Homo sapiens: one gene and its partner. The protein of the gene in region 1 interacts with the protein of each later gene in a biochemical or structural test. Each region holds a gene or a part of one and is shown in the gene's direction. Other genes may lie near its edges.

What was found. The genes of interacting proteins can lie anywhere in the genome.
Region 2: the proteins of H2AC25 (region 1) and DNTTIP2 form a complex in vitro, tested with the Homo sapiens proteins (one study listed by BioGRID).

The regions. Positions count from the first base shown.
Region 1 is NC_000001.11:228,456,715-228,459,732, reverse strand, and holds H2AC25 (histone H2A type 3), read left to right. Parts: upstream 1-1,859; 5' UTR 1,860-1,915; coding exon 1,916-2,308; 3' UTR 2,309-2,369; downstream 2,370-3,018. Other genes in the region: H2BC26 (histone H2B type 3-B), read right to left, coding at 1,223-1,603. UniProt on the Homo sapiens protein: Core component of nucleosome. Nucleosomes wrap and compact DNA into chromatin, limiting DNA accessibility to the cellular machineries which require DNA as a template.
Region 2 is NC_000001.11:93,872,507-93,876,260, reverse strand, and holds part of DNTTIP2 (deoxynucleotidyltransferase terminal-interacting protein 2), read left to right. Parts: intron 1-477; coding exon 478-616; intron 617-3,046; coding exon 3,047-3,142; intron 3,143-3,754. UniProt on the Homo sapiens protein: Regulates the transcriptional activity of DNTT and ESR1. May function as a chromatin remodeling protein. Part of the small subunit (SSU) processome, first precursor of the small eukaryotic ribosomal subunit.

The DNA.
Region 1 (3,018 bases):
TTGCTAACGCCTCGCAGAAAATAATGTGGCTAAAGAGGGAGGCAGCTACATTTGCTCAGAAAAAGGGAATTCTTTTCCTCCTAAATTAACCCCTTCCCCCACCCCCACTCCCATAAGGGTTAAAGTTACCGGCAGCTGGGGTCGCTTATTACATCCGGCTCCCCCGCGCAGGACGCTGCTTTGACGCCGTGCTTCGATTCGGTATCAAACATCCTGCCATCGCGGTATCCTGCCAGGAAAATATCCTCCCGGAATGTTCATTGCTTAAATCTAAACATGTCTGTCTGGTCCAGGCAGGGATGGAAAAGTCTTAAGCAAATGCAGAGCCAGGCACCACCGCCAGGGGAAAGTGACAACACCCATGGCCTCAGAGCCCGTGGTCTTGCGCCACGTCTGGCCTCGCCCATGGGGGGCGGGTAGGGTTGGGGAGGTTGGCACAGGGTCTTTTGGGGGGAGGTGACCCGCACTCCTCACCTGCACGGCGCACGCCAACCTCATTTGGACCCGGTCCTGAACCGGGCGCAAGCGCTCAACATCCAGGAATGCACCACTTGCTTATAAAAGACATTTGGGGCCAGGTGCGGTGGTTCACGCCTGTAATCCCAGCACTTTGGGAGGCAGAGGCGGATGGATCACCAGGTCAGAAGATCGAGACTATCCTGGCCAACATGGTGAAACCCCGTCTCTACTAAAAATACAAAAAATTAGCCAGGCGTGGTGGGGCGTGCCTGTAATCCCAGCTACTCGTAAGGCTGAGGCAGGAGAATCGCTTGAACCCAGGAGGCGGAGGTTGCAGTGAGCCCAGATTGCGCCACTGCACGCCAGCCTAGAGACAGAGCGAGACTTCTTCTAGAAAAAAAAAAAAAAAAAAAGAAAGAAAGAAAAAAAAAAGAAATCTCGTCGTGAGTTAATAGCTCTGCGCGGAGGGAGGGGATGGAGAGGGGGTCCTTGATCGCCTCCCAACATTACTGAGCTACATCACCTGAGCAGTTTCTACCCCGATTTCTGTAACGAGCAGTTTTTCTCGTTCTGTGCCGGCGCGCGCGCGCACACACACACACACACACACACACACACGGCTCAGATTCGGCCGCACCCGGCAACCGCTAGGGTGCATGGAGACACATTAGGTTACATAACCCTTCACCGTGTTCGAAACCCTTTCTTGATCGTGTGGGTGGCTCTGAAAAGAGCCTTTGGGTTCAGGACGCCGAGGAACGCCTCACTTGGAGCTGGTGTACTTGGTGACAGCCTTGGTGCCCTCGGACACGGCGTGCTTGGCCAGCTCGCCGGGCAGCAGCAGGCGAACGGCCGTCTGCACTTCGCGGGACGTGATGGTGGAGCGCTTGTTGTAGTGTGCCAGGCGGGAGGCCTCGCTGGCGATGCGCTCGAAGATGTCATTGACGAAGGAGTTCATGATGCCCATGGCCTTGGACGAGATGCCGGTGTCGGGGTGCACCTGCTTCAGCACCTTGTACACGTAGATAGAATAGCTCTCCTTGCGGCCGCGCTTGCGCTTCTTGCCGTCCTTCTTCTGTGCCTTGGTGACAGCCTTTTTAGAACCCTTCTTGGGCGCAGGAGCCGATTTGGACGGGTCTGGCATGATGGCTGAGTCTCTCCAAACAGAAACGCGCGGCGCTCGGAGTAACTCTATTTGTACGTTTTGTATTCAAATGAAGGCTCAGGATTTGCTCACTTCTGATTGGATCAAACGTTGTTCTACGTCATCGCTGGGAAAGGAATACGCAAATTAGGAGTGCCAGGTTCTTTTTCTGATTGGCTACCATAGCCATCCAATCGAACGCCGCGGTCTAGCCTACCTCTGTACCATACATAAGGGCTCGCTGGCCTTCACTGCCCTCTTGTTTTTAGTCTCGCTTTTCGGTTGCCGTTGTCTTTTTTCCTTGACTCGGAAATGTCCGGTCGTGGTAAGCAGGGTGGCAAGGCGCGCGCCAAGGCTAAGTCGCGCTCGTCGCGCGCGGGGCTGCAGTTCCCCGTGGGCCGCGTGCACCGGTTGCTCCGCAAGGGCAACTATTCGGAGCGCGTGGGCGCCGGCGCCCCGGTCTATCTGGCCGCGGTGCTCGAGTACTTGACTGCCGAGATCCTGGAGCTTGCCGGCAACGCGGCGCGCGACAACAAGAAGACGCGCATCATCCCGCGCCACCTGCAGCTGGCCATCCGCAACGACGAGGAGCTCAACAAGCTGCTGGGCCGCGTGACCATCGCGCAGGGTGGCGTCCTGCCCAACATCCAGGCCGTACTGCTGCCCAAGAAGACGGAGAGCCACCACAAGGCCAAGGGCAAGTGAGGCCGCCCGCCGCCCCCGGGGCCCCTTTGATGGACATAAAGGCTCTTTTCAGAGCCACCTACTATCTCGAGAAAAGAGCCGCACTGATCCTGCAGTTCTTTATAGGCCGGAGGCCTGATCACCCTAGGCTCATGAATGAGCGCAGTGGCCATGGGGAAGGGCGCAACGGGAACCGAGACCCTGGGGACTGATTGGGCTGCATACTTGCGAGGTGGGCAACGTGTTCTGTTAACAACAGGGAACCCTCGTCCACAGGTGGCCACCCCTTGCTCTTGAGTCCCACCCAAAACCTCTAGTAGGGTTTTAATAACGCTCACCGTAAAGGTGTCTTCATAATTACTAGTGACAAGTTCTCTTGACTCTAGCAAGGTTCCCGTGTGGTCATCAAGTACAGAATGCAATTTCTTAATGATTTATCTGATATTAAAAGTATTTATGATCTCTAAGTAGTTTGCACTTTAATTCTGAAGAGTAAGTCTATGGATTTCTATTTAAATTGCTAAGTTTTAACAATGTGAGCTCCACCAGTGTTAAGATTTAATTTATTTGGCTGGGAATTCTAAAGGTCATGAGGAAAGTTTCAGTACTTAAAAGGAACCAGATTAGTAGATGCTGAAAGGTATAAACCTTTTAAGAAGACTTAATTTGGAATAGGATAATTATTTAAAGGAATTTAGTTTGTTTAATTCGGGTTGGTCAAACATTAATCA
Region 2 (3,754 bases), about 130 Mb from region 1:
TTTCCTTTATTTTTATAAGTTTTTGATACATGTATTTCAAGTGGTTAATTTACCATAAAAATATGAAATGTTAGCCTGGGGAATGAGAAAATCACTGCCTTGGGTTCTTCATGGAATGGCTCATTCATTTGACATTATGGAGCCAGGTGTTGGGTGTGCACCTGTAGTCCCAGCCACCCAGGGAGGTTGAGGTAGGAGGATCACTTGAGTCCCAAGAGTTCAAGGCTGCAGTGGTCACTACTGCACTCCATCCTGGGCCAACAGTGAGACCCTGTCTCAAAAAATAAAATAAAATGATGAAAAATATATTTATTTAGAGTTTTTTTTCAGGAATTCCTCATAAAAATAAGATGCTTTTTTTTCTTTATTGTGGACAATACAAGGGAAGAGAAGAATAAGTGATTTTTTAAAATGCCATCTTATATGTTTCCATTTTGATTTAATTACTTGATCTTTAAGTGATGATTTCTTTTTCAGTCTGAAGTTGACAAGCAGCAGCATAGACCCTGGTCTGAGTATCAAGCAGTTGGGTGGTTTGTATATTAATTTTAATGCAGATAAACTACAGTCTAACAAGAGAACCCTAACACAGATCAAGGAGAAAAAGAAAAATGAGGTAAGTTAATTGTGCTGTTAGGTTTTCACAGAACTAACCAATCACTTTTAGAAATTAGTCCTTGGTAAAAGACTTAATTTTCCTACAGTGAAACCACATTGGCCTAATGTGTTAGTTTTTTCCTTCTCTCTAAAACAGTCATTTCTTTTTACAATAAAATCCTATCTATGAATGATAATGCTTTAAAAATAAATCAATACAGGGTCAGTGTTCCTCATCTTACACCCACCAATTATGATCCCAGGGGTTTTGTTTTTTTCCCTTTTCTTGCTATACTTTTAGTTCTTAAGTTCTTAACTAGTGTAGACTGTTGAGAATCTGAAAGCTGTGAATGCCTGCCTGCCTCTTCCACCCGGAAAAAAATGCACATGTGCATATAGACATTTTACATATAATTTCAGAAGGAATTACTGTTAAGGTAACTTTACCCAAACCCTTAGCTTTAGCCAACACCTTGCACTGTTTTCTCCTAAATCTATATTTTCTAGCCTTGATGCTTCTCACTGTCACTTTCAGACCTTTAAATCCAAGTACCTATTTGTTCATTTAGATGTCCTCAGGTACTTGACGTCACTAATTCCCCTTTCCCTGCCTGAACCAGGAATCCTCTTCTTGTATTCTTTTTTCTGGCTAATGAAACCAAACTCTCTTTTCCTTTTGTAGTCAGTCACCAAGCCTCTAGGGGAAGATATTTCTCTGCTTCCTCCTTTTCAAGCGACTGTCACCAGCTAGTGCAGGCCTTTGCTTCTCATCTGGACTACTCCAGTGGCTTCCTTATTGATCTTGTTTTCATCTTGTTCTTCAAGCCATCCTCCACACTTCTAGATTTCTCTGTCTAAAAACACAAATCCGGCTGGGCAAGGTAGCTCACATCTATAATCCCAGCACTTTGGGAGGCTGAGGCAGGAGAATTGTTTAAGCCCAGGAGTTTGAGACCAACCTGGGCAACATAGCTAGACCACATCTCTCCTCCCTGCCCCAAAAAACACACCACACACACAGATGTGACAGTATTCTCTTGAATCCTTCAAAGTACCTCTCTACCCCACCCAGCTGTCATCTGCTCTATTCTTGCCACTGAAGACTACTGTAGTTGCCTGAACTTACCCTGCTTTTCCCCAAGCAAGTGCAAAATAATTGATCGTTGCCCTTGGGGAATATTTTACCTCCAGTCCTTCTCACAACCCCTCTGTTTCCATAACATCTAGCATAGATCTGATTCATTGTTGATCATGTGATATATTAACTTACCATCTTTTCTTTATATTCCTAAAACAGGGTTTTTCAGTCTCAGCACTACTGATGTTTTGGGCTGCATAATTTTGTTGTGAGATGTTCCGTGCATAGTAGGATGTTTAACAGCATCCCTATCTTTTGCCCACTAGATGTCAGTAGCATTCTTCCTTATCCTCACCACCACCAAAAATGTCTCCAGACATTGCCAGATGCTCCCAGTTGAGAACCACTGTCCTTGAATGTACTACAGTACTTGACTCACAGCAAACTCTTAATCATTTGTTAAGTAAATATCATGCCCCCTTTTATGAGTGATAGGAAAGCCTAGACGGCTACCTATACCACACAGAAACATCTAGGCCTGAACCTGAATTGTGTGCCTGACTGTTAATTTCTGAGTTGATCATTTCAAATGTCAGTCCCAAATTAATGCTTGTACTATATTCCTGTAAACTATTTTGAGGGCTACAGAGCAGTCTTACTTGGTTCTTGTACTGAGAAAAATACTAATTAACCTGAGGTTCCTTTAGTCACACAGAGTTTTAGGAGAATATAATCATCCTAGTCAAGTAACAAAAGTACAGAAATCATTTAGGAAAAGATAAACAGATTTGACTGCACAAATTTATTTATTTATTTTGGAGAAATGGCGTTTTCTTATGTTACCCAGGCTAGTCTTGAACTCCTGGCCTCAAGTGATTGTCCTGCCTTGGCCTCCTAAAGAGTTGGGATTATAGGCATGAGCCATCGTGCCTGGCCTTTTTTTTCTTTTTTCTTTTTTTTTTTGGGAGGGAGCTGGGTTTGGGGGGAGACAGGGTCTCACTCTGTCACCCAGGCTGGAGTGAGTGGCACAGTCATAGCTTGCTGCAGCCTCAAGCTCCTGGCCTCAAGTGATCCTTCTGCCTTAGCGTCCTGAGTAGCTGGGACTACAGGTGTGTGCCACCATGCCCAACTAATTTCTTTTCTTTTTTTTTTTTTTTTTACAGTCAGGGTCTTGCTATGTTGACCAAGGTGGTCTAAAACTCCTGGCCTCAAGTGATCCTCCTCCCTTGGCCTCCTCAAAGCACTAGGATTATAGGTGTGAGCCACTTTGCCAGGCTGACTAAAAATTTTAAAACTTACAGAAGTTTAAACTGTTGAAAAACTTATATAACATTCTGACATTATTTTAAAACCAATTTTATGTTTTTATAGCTTCTGCAGAAAGCCGTCATTACACCTGATTTTGAAAAAAACCACTGTGTTCCACCATATAGTGAATCAAAGTATCAACTTCAGAAAAAACGCAGAGTAAGTACAGTGACTTAATTAAAATGCTTAGATATGTTTGGCTATATATTTTCAGCTTATACAACATAACTGCACAATTAAACTGTATCTGTTGGTCTATATATGAGTCCAAAGAAAATAATTACAGATTTCTAAGGGCTGTAAAATATAGTACCATAAACACATTATGTATAGATTTTCACATCTTTGCAGCCACAATAGTGCATCTATAAGTAGAGGTTTTTTAAAAAAATATATATATATATAGATTACTTCTATCTGCCATTTCGACTAGTTATCCAGAGAGCTTGAAGGAAAGTTGAGGATGGTATTCTAGTAATGTTACTGTAATATGGAGCACCCTGGCACATGGTAGGCACTAACTAAATACTTGTTGTATGAATGAAACAAAATTAAATAACTTGTAGGAGTTTTCTAAAGAATAGTATTTTGTTTTATTGTAGAAATAACACAAGGTTCTGGATCCTTGTATGAGTGGCATTCTGAGACTCCTGGGTGACTGAATAAAAATGTTTACATATAAGCTCTAGAAACGAAAGTGTTTTTATACATTTTCTTACTGCATATAGTCTGTTTTAGACAATAAAAATTGAAGTTGTGTGTTATTCTCCC